3 linked regions of the Homo sapiens genome follow. The protein of the gene in region 1 purifies or fractionates together with the protein of each later gene. This does not show direct contact. Each region holds a gene or a part of one and is shown on either strand. Other genes may lie near its edges.

The links.
Region 2: the proteins of UBXN2A (region 1) and PPP1R11 purify together in Homo sapiens (affinity purification with mass spectrometry; 4 studies listed by BioGRID and IntAct, with this or other methods). This does not show direct contact.
Region 3: the proteins of UBXN2A (region 1) and MYL11 purify together in Homo sapiens (affinity purification with mass spectrometry, with the first as the bait; one large-scale study listed by BioGRID). This does not show direct contact.

The regions. Positions count from the first base shown.
Region 1 is NC_000002.12:23,946,395-23,951,357, forward strand, and holds part of UBXN2A (UBX domain-containing protein 2A), read left to right. Parts: intron 1-4,963. UniProt on the Homo sapiens protein: Acts to repress the ubiquitination and subsequent endoplasmic reticulum-associated degradation of CHRNA3 by the STUB1-VCP-UBXN2A complex in cortical neurons.
Region 2 is NC_000006.12:30,065,973-30,069,997, reverse strand, and holds the start of PPP1R11 (E3 ubiquitin-protein ligase PPP1R11), read right to left. Parts: upstream 2,801-4,025; 5' UTR 2,588-2,800; coding exon 2,519-2,587; intron 1,409-2,518; coding exon 1,300-1,408; intron 895-1,299; coding exon 692-894; 3' UTR 1-691. UniProt on the Homo sapiens protein: Atypical E3 ubiquitin-protein ligase which ubiquitinates TLR2 at 'Lys-754' leading to its degradation by the proteasome.
Region 3 is NC_000016.10:30,373,476-30,377,601, forward strand, and holds the start of MYL11 (myosin regulatory light chain 11), read left to right. Parts: upstream 1-1,326; 5' UTR 1,327-1,382; coding exon 1,383-1,385; intron 1,386-2,344; coding exon 2,345-2,437; intron 2,438-2,669; coding exon 2,670-2,745; intron 2,746-2,947; coding exon 2,948-3,052; intron 3,053-3,144; coding exon 3,145-3,223; intron 3,224-4,126. UniProt on the Homo sapiens protein: Myosin regulatory subunit that plays an essential role to maintain muscle integrity during early development. Plays a role in muscle contraction.

The sequences.
Region 1 (4,963 bases):
ACTGCAATGTCCGCCTCCTGGGTTCAAGCGATTCCCCTGCCTCAGCCTGCTGAGTAGCTGGGACTATAGGCGCACGCCACTATACCTGGCTATTTTTTTTTGTATTTTAATAGAGACGGGGTTTCACCATGTTGGCCAGGATGGTCTCCATCTCCTGACCTCGTGATCCACCCGCCTCAGCCTCCTAAAGAGCTGAGATTACGGGCATGAGCCACCATGCCTGGCCAATTTTTGTATTTTTAGTAGAGATGGAGTTTCACCATATTGGCCAGGCTGGTCTTGAACTTCTGACCTCAAGTGGTCCACCTGCCTCAGCCTCCCAAAGTGCTGGGATTCAGGCATGAGCCACCGCACCCAGCCCTATTTAATTCTTAAGATGTAGTTTTTATATTCAGATTCTTATACACTTATTTTAAATTTTTGTTTATAGATTTTAAAAAAGAAATCAGACAGTCTCCCAAGTCAGAAGAGTCTCAGACTCCCAATTTATTAATTTTTTTTTTTTTTTTTTTTGAGACAGGGTCTCACTCTTACCCAGGCTGAAATTCAGTGGCACAATTATAGTTCACTGCAGCCTTAAACTCCTGGACTCAAGCAACTCTCCTGCCTCAGCATCCTGACTAGCCAGGACTACAGACGTTTGCCATGATGCCTGGCTAATGTTCTTATTTGTAGTAGTGACAGGGTCTCACTGTGTTGCCTAGGCTGATCTTGAACTCCTAGCATCAAGAGATTCCCACCACCTGAGCCTCCTAAAGTGCTGAGATTACAGGGGTGCACCACTGTGCCTGGCCTAACGTAAGCATTTTAAAATACCACATTCTTAGTAGTCCAAATCTATTTTGACTGGCCTTTCCTGTTAGTGGACATGTTCCATAAAACTCAGTCTTCTCTGTCTCCTGATTGATTTCATCACTGCACTTTTTGGGATAGTATTTGAGAAGATGTTCGGTAAACTGTGATATGCTATATCAATGTAAGATGATGGTGATAGTTGGAAGTAGACCGAAGAAAAATGAAGGCAGTTCTTTTCATCTGTTCATTCTTGTGCCAACTTTATGCTGATAACTTGGATATTTGTCAGATGGCTTTTTTTATTCTCTGCAGTATAGTACATGACTTAGGTTCATTCATGTCATATGACTGTGATACATTTGTAGCAGCTCACTCAATTGATATAAATAAATTTTAGTTGGTTCATTTGCATGTTACTAAATTTATGATAGAAAATGACTGCGGTAATGGTGACTTTGTGGTGTCTCCATGTTAAAATTAATTTTTACATCATAATTCTATGCCATGCTTACAATTAGTAATTCAGTTTGTTTTTTCCTTATTAGTCCATAAAATTGTGCTACTAGAAACTGTCATACTGATACTGACACTTTTGTCATTAGTTTTAAATCAGTGGCTTGCACACATTGGTGGGTGGTTCAATAAGTATATAAAACATTTTTTTTTAAGTTTTTGTTTTTTTGAGATGGAGTTTTGCTCTTGTTGCCCAGGCTGGAGTGCAATGGCGGGGGCTCAGCTCCCTGCAACCTCCTCCTCCCAGCTTCAAGTGATTCTCCTGCCTCAGCCTCCCAAGTAGCTGAGATTACAGGTGCCCACCACCATGCACGGCTAATTTTTGTGTTTTTAATAGAGACAGGGTTTCATCATGTTGGCCAGGCTGGTCTAGAACTCCTGGCCTGAGGTGATCCGCCCGCCTCAGCCTCCCAGAGTGCTGGGATTACAGGCGTGAGCAACTGTGCCGGGCTTTTAAAAAGTTTAATTCGTGAAATCAAAAGTAAAATTTCATAATCATGTCAAAATTAGGACTTTTTAGATTAAGTCTGAAGATGTTTCTTTTTCTTTTTCTTTTTTTTTTTTTTTTGAGACAGAGTCTCACTCTTGTTGCCCAGGCTAGAGTGCAGTGGCGTGATCTCGGCTCACTGCAACCTCCACCTCCCAATTCAAGTGATTCTCCTGCCTCAGCCTCCCAAGTAGCTGGGATTACAGGCATGCGCCACCATGCCTGGCTAATTTTTGTGTTTTTAGTAGAGACAGGGTTTCACCATGTTAGCCAGGCTGGTCTCAAACTCCTGATCTCAGGCGATCTGCCCACCTCGGCCTCCCAAAGTGCTGGGATTACAGGCGTGAGCTTGAAGATGTTTCTTACCAATCTCTATAACAGATTATGGTGGGGGATGAGGAAAGAAAAAGGAGTATAACACTGTTGTATTCTTAGTATCTTCAGTCCTCAGAACAACCTGAGGGGGATAATTATGTCCATGCTATAAGTTAGGCAGCTGGGACTCAGAGAAGCTAAATAACATATACAAGGTCACCTAGCTCAAAAGTGATGTAGCCAGTATTCCAGTAAAACTCAGTTTGAATTTGAGGTCTATTCTATCTTCATTCTCTTTTGCTGTCATAAAACAAGTAAAAGCAATTTGTCAGTACCTTATAACTGTAAAATGATGGAAAAAAGTATTTGTAATTTCCTAGAGAACAATAACCTATTACTGGAAACTCAGTGAAATCCTTTAAGTAAGACTTCTCTTGTAGCTTTTTTTTTTTTTTTTTGAGACAGAATCTCTGTCACCCAGACTAGAGCACATTGGCGTGATCTCCCCTCACTGCAACCTCCATCTCCCTGGTTCAAGTGATTCTCCTGCCTCAGCCTCCCAAGTAGCTGGGACTACAGGCGTGTGCTACCAAGCCTGGCTATTTTTTTTTCTTTTTTTTTTTTTTTTTGTATTTTTAGTAGAGACGGAGTTTCACCATGTTGGCCAGGCTGGTCTTGAACTCCTAACCTCAGGTGATCCGCCTGCCTTGGCCTCCCAAAGTGCCGGGATTACAGGCATGAGCCACCACACCCAACCCTCTTGTAGCTTTTAGAAGAAATTTATTTGCCAGGCATGGTGGCTCACGCTTGTAATCCCAGCACTGTGGGAGGCCGAGGTGGGCGGATCATGAGGTCAGGAGATGGAGACCATCCTGGCTAACACATCGAAACCCTGTCTCTACTAAAAATACAAAACATTAGCCGGGCGTGGTGGCACATGCCTGTAGTCCCCAGCTACTCGGGAGGCTGAGGCAGCAGAATCACTTGAACCCAGGAGGTAGAGGTTGCACTCCAGCCTGGGCAACAGAGCAAGACTTCATCTCAAAAATAAATAAATAAATAATAAAAATAAAAATAAGTTTATTTATAGCCGGGCGTGGTTGCCCATGCCTATAATTCTAGCACTTTGGGAGGCCAAGGCAGGAGGATCACCTGAGGTCAGTAGTTTGAGACCAGCCTGGCCAATGTGGTGAAACGCTGTCTCTACTAAAAATACAAAAATTAGCCAGGCATGGTGGCACATGCCAGTAATCCCAGCTACTTGGGAGGCTGAGGCAGAAGAATCACTTCAACCTAGGAGGCGGAGGTTGCAGTAAGCTGAGACCTCACCACTGCACTCTAGCCTGGGCAACAGAGCAAGACTCTGTCTCAAAAAAAAAAAAATTATTTGTATAAATGTGTGGGGTACAAGTATAATTTTGTTACATGGATATATTGTACAGTAGTAAAGTCAGAGCTTTTAATGTATCCATCACTGGAATAATTTCTCATCATCCCCCCACCCCCACCCCCACCCCCACCCCAAGGATCGCTACTCTTTGCTTTGCACTTGCTGCACACTGTGAAGGATACAGGAAATGTGTAAGTCATGGTACTTATCCTCAGCGATGTCAGATCTGGTAAAGAGAGTGAAAAGAAACAGTAATAAGCAATATCACACAATATGATTTAAATGCCAAAAATCTAAATGCTTAGGAGGAGACTATTACTAAGGGTCTAATATTTCATCTTTATGGTGGAAATGGATCTTGAGCTGGGACTTAAAGGATAGTTAGGATTTGAATGCCTAGGACGATGATTACAATGTGAACAAAGTAGTAGAATGAACATGTTATGCTTTTGAGATAATGAAGACCAGATCTAAACTATGGAAATATTTTATTTTATTTTTATTTTATTATTATTATTACTGTTTTTGAGACGGATTCTCGCTCTGTTGTCCACGCTGGAGTGCAGTGGCATGATCTTGGCTCACTGCGACCTCCGACTCCTGGGTTCCAGCAATTCTCCCACCTCAGCCTCTTGGTAGCTGGGATTACAGGCGCCCTCCACCATGCCTGGCTAATTTTTTGTATTTTTAGTAGAGATGGGGTTTCACCATGTTGGCTGGGTTGGTCTCGAACTCCTGACCTCAAGTGATCCGCCCACCTCGGTCTTCCAGTGTGCTCGGATTACAGGCATGAGCCTCTGCGCCTGGCCTATTTTATTTTATTTTTTGAGATGAAGTTTTGCTCTTACGCCCAGGCTGGAGTGAAGTGGCACGATCTTGGCTCACTGCAACCTCCACCCGCCGGGTTCAAGCGATTCTCCTGCCTCAGACTCCCGAGTAGTTGGGATTACAGGTATGCGCCACCACACCCATGCGTGGTTCGCCGTGTTGGCCAGGCTGGTCTCGAACTCCTGACCTCAGGTGATCCACCCACATTGGCCTCCCAAAGTGCTAGGATTACAGGCATGAGCCACCATGCCTGGCCTATTCATTATTTTTTAGTTGACAATAATTTTATATATTTATGGGATACATTGTGGTGTTTCAGTACTTATGTACATTATGGAATGGTCAAATCAGGCTAATTACCATGCCCCTCAGCTCAAATACTTAACATTTCTTTGTTGTGAGAACATTTAAAACCCATTCCTTCTGCTATTTTGAAGCATACAGTATTATTAACTGTAGGAGATTATTTTGAATTAGTTGAAAATAATGTTGGAGAACTGCCAAGTGAAAAACAAACAGCCCCACCAGATTATAATGTCCAAAAGAGCTGGGATCTTTATCTATTTTGTTCAATATGTATCCCAAGCACCTAGAATCATTCATGTCTGATATATAGTAGGTGCTGAATAAGTATA
Region 2 (4,025 bases), on another chromosome or scaffold:
CGGCTCTAAGTGACCAATCTCAAGCCAGCTTTGTCAGAAATCCTAAATAACAGGAGAAGGGTGGGAAGAAAGGATATGATTATTTCTTATTCCATTTTCCATAAGAGGTGAGAATGACAAGGACCTCTTTTCTAACTCCTCTTGAGGGTGTGAGAAGGGTTAGCAGGAGGAGAAGGGCTGGGAGCTCTGAGGTCTCCTGTAAGACCTCATATCTCACAGGCAAGGACTAAGAATTAGGATTAAATATTTTAGTGGGATAGCTCTAAACCAGGATTAGCAAGCAAAGTTAGGGCGCAAATTCCTGGAATCTGACTGGGACCCTGGCAGTGAAAGCTGGGACTGTTGAAAACCCAATTTAAGTGTTCGCTACTCATGTTGAGAGTGCAGGGCCAAGATAACTAGATCCCAGGACAGGCAGTTTGGCAGTGAGAACAAAAGGAAGACACTGGGACCAAGGTGCCTAGATCCCTCGAGAGAGAAGGGTGGGTATTGGGAGGAAAAATGAGGACTGGGGAAACCCAGGAGGCTGGGTTCTGGAATAGCAGCAAGTCAGAATTTCAGGATCTCTGTTCGTCCTCCTCTTCCTCTTCCCTCTATCAGGCAGAAGAGAGGGAAGGAGGGGGCTGGAGAAGTAGCCACATGGATACATTTAGGGCCAGACAGACACAGGAATGCTGGAGGAGAGAGGGATTTAGTGCTGCATTGGCCCTGGAGGGGGCTGGGAAGGGTCAGGAGGCTGGGGAGGGGTGGTGGGGGTCGGTCCTAGGGTTGCACGACGCCGTCCTTTGCGGTGGCCACGTACACAGTGTGTATGACCACAGCCCTCTTCTTCCTCCTCATCACTTTCCGTGGAGCTCTCGCCAAAGGCCCGAGGTTTCTCATAAATACAGCAGCCTAGATTTAGAGGGAGGAGCCCAGTTAAAGAGGAGGAAGGGTAAGATATATAGTCAGTTCCATTCCCACTCAAACTCAGTGAAAATTCCTATTTTCTCCTACCTTCCAGGATCCAGCTTCCCCAGGCCCACCCTCTGGGACTCAGGCCCCACCCCTCTTGTCCTCTTAGAGAGCCACGAATTCAAAGCCCCACTTCTCCCACCTCTGACACTTCTTGCTGTCAGACCTAGGCAATTCCAGTTCTAGCCCTTCCCTACCTCTTTCCCTGATACCACAGCACCACCAAAAAAGTGACAGAACTATGAACATCTGGGGGCTTCTGGAAAGCCAGTGGATATGAGTAGATACAAGATATGCTGAAGGGAGCCAGAACTCCAGGGCTACTGCGGGCCAACAATTACTCACATTTGGATGAGCGGCGGCCCATGTGTTCATTGTCCACAGTGTCACTTGTCCATTCTACCTTTTTCTCTGGCTTCCGTTTCCGAAGTTTGATGGTAAGGCTCCGGTTCTCCTAGAAGGTTAAGGATGAGCATACCTATCTAGTCCCCTCTTACTAACCTTTCCCACTCCCTCCCAGGGAACCTCCTCTCTTTTCTTCTTTAGCTCAATCAGTACCATAGGCATAGCACCAGAGGAGCTGACAGAAGATAAAACAGAACAGGTCTTTTACCTCAGATAGTCCCTTGAGGAATAAGTATTATTTCCTGTTCTTATACCACCAGTATAAGAGAAGACACAATTCCTAACCTAGGAAAGGTCCCAGCAACTCTTCAAAGGAAAATATAATCCTTGCTGTTTCTCCGTCTTCCTCCCCAAATCATCCTTGGTAGTATTAATACATGAAAATTATTTTTCAGTCCCCAGCACCTAATCTTTGATCTCCCTTCCTTTTTCCAGATCCCCTATTCTTTTTCTCTTAAAAAAACAAACAAAACCTCTCTCATTCTCAAGCTCCAGCCCTCCCTACCTCTTATCCACCTATTCTCTGGCATCCTGGCATCTCTAGTAGCAAGTATTACTAATCTATTAATTACTAAACTTCCTTTAATCCAAGAGTATTAAGCCCAATGCAACCTTCTCCCTTTGAAGGCAACTTAACATGTTTTTGGATAAATACTTCTTGTTTCTCCATTTACATCTTTGCTCTCTGATTTCTCAAAATACCTCTTTTCATCTCCTTTTCTTGTTTCCTCATTCCTGCCACTTCCTTTTACATTCATCCATTCAATAAATATTTATTCGAATATCAATATTGATAATATTGATAAGTTGGCCTCCAACCATGCTTTCTTACACTACCTTTGATTTCCTCCCAACATCTTCCTGGCTCCTTAATCCTCAATTTCCCTTTCGTTTATTACTTACACACATAACCACCCCAAGCAGCAACACCTATATCCTAACTGTACCTCCCTATTACAAGTTCCTTGACCTGCCTCCTGCACCATCTCTGCCACTCCAAATAGCTCCAATACCTTCCGATTCTCCCAGCCCTAGATATTCAACCCCACACCTCCCATATCCCTAGGCCTAGCTCCTCCAACAACTCTTCTAATCCCTGTCCCCTCCCTCCCAGTATCTCCCAGACCCCTAAACAGCACCGCCCCCCCGCCTTTCTCACGGGCTCGGTTGTCACGGTAACCGTTGTCTCAGTGACGGTCTCGCTCAGCCCAGCCCCTGCCTCGGCCATGGCTAAGGCTCAGGACAGGGAGGAGAGGAGGAAGGGGGATGAGACACCCTTCCCTTTTTCTGTCGCTGAGGTCTAAGAGAAGCGGTATCGGATTCAGAGTGGTAGCCAGGATCCTCCACCTTCTTTATTCCCCCTCCTCCTGGGCCTCCGCTTCTCCACCCCTGGGGATAACCTGGCTAACCCCACTTCCGGCTCGCCGCTTCCGGGTGTGACGCATACTGCAGTCCCCCTTTTTCCCTTCCACGGCACCAAATGCGTCAAAGCGCAGGCGTCGCTGGATTAGTTCCGCCGTAACGTGACAGCGCGCAGGCGCTGAAAGAAAGAGAAACAAATTTGGCGGAAGGGGTGTCACTGCGGGTGTGGGTGGAGGAGGGAGAGTCTGGGGCAGCACGCGTACTCACAGCCTAGAGGAAGCAGGAGGGGCGCCCAGATGGGTATTGCCGGGCCAGACGCTGCAGAGTGGGTGTGGCGAGGGCGGAGTTGTGTGCACCAAGCTGAGTCCTGCTGCAGATTTCCGTTTGCCTTGTCTGGGTAGGTGGACCGGCGAGGAAGCTTAAGGAGCAATAGTAATGACCCTACCGTGGCCTATTTCCCTTTCCTTGTTTGGTCTGGGTTTCTCTAAAGAAAACGGGAAGTGGGAGCAGTTGGAAACACACTTAAGAGTCAAGCGATGTGGTTCTACCCCTCGCCCTGTGCCTGTAGGTGTTTGAGCAGTTCAGTTTAGTGCACGTTCAACGTCAGTTTTTTTCAGTCACTGTGCTACGCCTTGAAGATGGAGGCGCGTAAGACGCTCAGACCCTGCCTTTTAGCTCTAGTAGGAAAGACAGGCATGCTGAAAACTAACAAAAATATGAAACACTGGGGCATTAACAAATGCCATGTCTGATTTGTAAATCTGAATGTAGTTACATACTGCCAACATATTCGTTCTCTCTGGGGTGATGAGTAGGATGAAGCAGAGAAATGGTCGTAAATTACAGTATAGGCTATTTTATAAAAATATATGCACGTTTCTTAGAGAGCAAAAGAAAGTGGTAAAACAAGAACCAGGAAGGCCGACAAGTAGGTTTTTTTAGAAGAGCAGCTTAAAAAGTTGTAGATGTGTGCACTACAGGAAATGGAGTTTTGTACCGCTTGGATCTGAGGGAGTGCCAGATGAAGCTTGACAGGTAGGCAGTGGTTATATGGAAGAACCTGTATGCTTTGCTAAGAAATTAAGCTTAATCCAATCACTGTTATGGGCCAGAGAAAGGCTTAAAGTAGGGTAGAAACATGAACAGGTTTGTTTCAGATTTCAGGAGTGGGTCAGGAAAGTCAACTGCCAGAACAGTTCAAACGTACAGTGGGGAAGACTGCCCTGCCCATTCTCCAGGTTGCTGTGGGGGTCAAACAAGATAGCTATGTTTGAGAGCTCTGAATATATATAAAGGGCCACACA
Region 3 (4,126 bases), on another chromosome or scaffold:
GTCCCAGCTACTCGGGAGGCTGAAGCAGGAGAATCACTTGAACCCGGGAGGCGGAGGTTACAGTGAGCCAAGATCACGCCACTGCACTCCAGCCCGGATAACAAAACGAGACTTCATCTCAAAAAAAAAAAAAAAAAGTAGCTGGGCATGGTGGCGGGTGCCTGGAATCCCAGCTACTCAGGAGGCTGAGGCAGAAGTATCGCTTGAACCCAGAAGGCGGAGGTTGCAGTAAGCCGAGATCGCACCATTGCACTCCCACCTGGGTGACAAGAGCAAGACTCCATCTCAAAAAAAAAAAAAAAGAAAGAAAAGAAAAAAAAATTCCCCTCTCCTTGAAGGGAGGTAGGAGACCCACCTGATCCCTCAGCTTCCACAGATGGCTCTTTCTCACCACCCTCACACTTACACACACTTGACTATGAACTCCACCATGTGGGGGTGGAGGGATTGTGTCTGCCAAAGTACATCCACAAAGCCCAGCCTAGCACGTGGCACACTGTGTGTGTTCAATACATGTTTACTGGGTTTATTTTATTAATTTAAAATAGAGACGGGGGCCAGGCGCAGTGGCTCACACCTGTAATCCCAGCACTTTGGGAGGCCTAGGTGGATGGATCACCAGGTCAGAAGATTGAGACCACTCTGGCCGACACGGTGAAACCCTGTCTCTACTAAAAATACAGAAAAAAAAAATTAGCCTGGCTTCGTGGCACACCTATAATCCCAGCTACTCGGGAGGCCAAGATAGGAGAATCACTTGAACAGGGGAGGTGGAGGTTGCAGTGAACCGAGATCACACTACTGGCACTCTAGCCTGGGAGACAGAGCGAGACTGTCTAAAAAAAAAAAAAAGGGAGACAGGGGTCTCACTATGTTGCCCAGGCTGGTCCTGAACTCCTGGCCTCAAGCAATCCTCCTGCCTCAGCTTCCCAAAGTGCTGGGATTACAGGTGTGAACCACTGCACCCAGACGTTTACTGGGTTTAAATCTGAGCCCACCCCACTCAGGGGTACAGGATCTGGTTCATTTATCTCCCAGAATGATGCCTTGGGTTGCGTCCCCTCTAAACTCTGGCACATTCCAGCCCCTCTTTGGGAGAAAGAACATCTCTTCTTGCCCAGGCCCTAGTGAGACATGCATCGCAAGACATGCTCCCCCCTTCCTCCCCGCTGGGCTCCAGCTGCTGCCAGCCCTCCAAGAAAGGAGAGGCCCTGAGTTGGGCTATTTTGGTATCTGGGGTGGGCACCCGCAGGGCTAAGGTTACCTTGGTATGTTAAGGGCTCCCTGGGGCAGGACTATATAACCCCAGAGGGACTGCCCCATGCTGACTCCTTGCTTCTTTCCAGCCGGAGCCGCTGCCTTGCCCCCCGGAGACTGAAGACATGGTGAGTGAGAATCCTCCAACCCCTGCCCAGATCCCTTAGACCTCAGGGCAGCCTCACCCTTTGAAAGAAAGTAGCTGGTTCCCAGTCCAACAAAAAGTTAAAAGGATGCTCATCTCTTTCTCGGCATCACTGATGGAAAACAGACTGTGTGATGGCCTAAAGGATCCAATCAATGATAATCCGCCCAGACATTCAACTCACAGGGGCCCAGTCCCTCTCAAAGCCTGATCCATTCATTCCTGTACTCCATCTTCCTAAGGCCCTCTGGCACCAGCCAGGCAATAACTCCCATCCCATTTTACAAATGAGAAAGTAGAGGCTCAGGCCAGGTGCTGTGGTTCACGCCTGTAATCCCAGCACTTTGGGAGGCCAAGGTGGTTGGATCACTTGAAGCCAGGAGTTCGAGACCAGCCTGGCCAACAGGCGAAACCCCGTCTCTACTAAAAATACAAAAATTAACTGGGCGTGGTGGTGCATGCCTGTAATCCCAGCTACTACGGAGGCTGGGGCATAAGAATCGCTTGAACCCGGGAGGCAGAGGTTGCGGTAAGCCGAGATCGCAGCACCGCACTCCAGCCTGGGTGACAGAGCAAGACTCTGTCTCAAAAAAAAAAAAAAAAAGAAAAGAAAAGTAGAGGCTCAAACAGGGCAAATGAGTGGCTGGGGTCACACAGCAAGTCTGAGGCTCAGAGGAGCTAGGCTCAGGACACTGAGAAGATAAGGAAGCTTCCACCCATTGTGGGGGATGGAGAGTTGGAGACCCAGGAGCCACAGACGGGAATTTGGGGAATGCAATCAAAGCAAGCCCCCTCAGCAAAGAGGTCCCAAGGAAGGGGAGACTCAGGCCAAAGGGCTGCTTTAGGAACAGGGACTCGAAGAATTCTGACTCTTAATCCATTGCCCCCAGAGAGGTGGAGGGACTGGTCCATGGGCCCCTTTGTTCAACCCTCACCCTCCAGGCACCCAAGAGGGCCAAGAGAAGGACAGTAGAGGGCGGAAGCTCCAGCGTCTTCTCCATGTTCGACCAGACTCAGATCCAGGAGTTCAAAGAGGTGGGTGAGGGGACGGGGAAACTGGAAGGCTGACCAAAAGCAGCCCTGCTGGCCCTCTCCCTGGAATGTGCACCTGCTTGAAGGAGGGGAAAGGTTTAGAATTCCTTCCTCCCCTCTCTGCTTGGGGTGGAAGAGGACAGTTGGCTGAGAGCCAGCATCTGATCCTCCTGGGGTAGGGATGCTGAGGCTGGGCCATGGGGGACCTAACCCTCCCCACCACGGCCCTCCCCAGGCCTTCACTGTGATCGACCAGAACCGTGATGGTATTATAGACAAGGAGGACCTTCGGGACACCTTCGCAGCCATGGGTGAGCCCCCTACCCCCAGGTGGGAATATTCAAGGCTGCAGAGTCTAGGAAATTCAGTGGCCTTGGGTTCCAGCCCTGTCAGCTCCACCTTGGGCCTCAGTCTACCCAGCTGAAAAATGAATGGGATCAGCTGAATTAGTGGGAAGCGCAGGCCCGGCCCCAGGAGCCTGCTCCAGCCCATGCTTCCCCCAACCCCCTCCAGGCCGCCTCAATGTGAAGAATGAGGAGTTGGATGCCATGATGAAGGAAGCCAGCGGTCCCATCAACTTCACCGTCTTCCTGACCATGTTCGGGGAGAAGCTCAAGGGTGAGTGGAGTGTCCTGGGTCCAAGGCCCCGGCTGCCTTTTCCCAGACCCTTCAGGGACCCATCAGCTTCATGTGCCCTCTGACCCCCACAGGTGCCGACCCTGAGGATGTGATCACCGGAGCCTTCAAGGTCTTGGACCCTGAGGGAAAGGGCACCATCAAGAAGAAGTTGTAAGCATCGGCTCCCCCACCCTTCCGACCCTTCCCCCACTCCACCAGCTGCTCCCACACTGACAGCCTCCTTAAATTTCTACCAAGGCTGGGCCCTGTGGCTCAGGCCTATAATCCCAGTGCTTTGGGAGGCAGAGGCAGGAGGATTTACTTGAGGACAGGAGTTTGAGATCAGCCTGGATAACACAGCATGACCCTGTTTCTAAAAACTTAACTAAAAAATTCGTGGGCTGGCCGGGCACAGTGGCTCATGCCTGTAATCCCAGCACTTTGGGAGGCCAAGGCGGGCGGATCATGTGAGGTCAGGAGTCCAAGAACAGCCTGGCCAACACGGTGAAACCCCGTCTCTACTAAAAATACAAAAATTAGCTGGGCGTGGTGGCGGGCGCCTGTAGTCCCAGCTACTAGGGAGACTGGGACATGAGAATCGCTTGAACCCTGGAGTCGGAGGTTGCAGTGAGCCAAGATCACGCCACTGCCCTCCAACCTGGGCGACAATAGCAAAACTCCGTCTCCAAAAAAAAGAAAAAAAAAAATTCGCGGGAGTGGTGGCAAACACCTATAGTCCCAGCTACTCCGGAGGCTGAGGCAGGAAGATCCCTTGAGCCCAAGAGTTCCAGGTTGCAGTGAGCCGTGATCAAACCACTGCATTCCAGCCTGGGCGACAGGGTGAGACCCTGTCTCAAAACAAACAAAAACCCAAAAATTCCTACGAAGGGTTAGGCACTGCCAGAGGTAAGGGAGTAGTTAAGATTGTGGTAATGGGCGGTAAGATTGCATTTTCACAGCAAATGTGGGCGGAGAGGGCAAAAGCGAGTGTCTGGGAGGCCAATGAAGGAAGTAGAGTGACCTGGGTTTTCAGGGGAGGCTGGGGCTGGCATCGGGGATGAGGTGCGAGGGAGT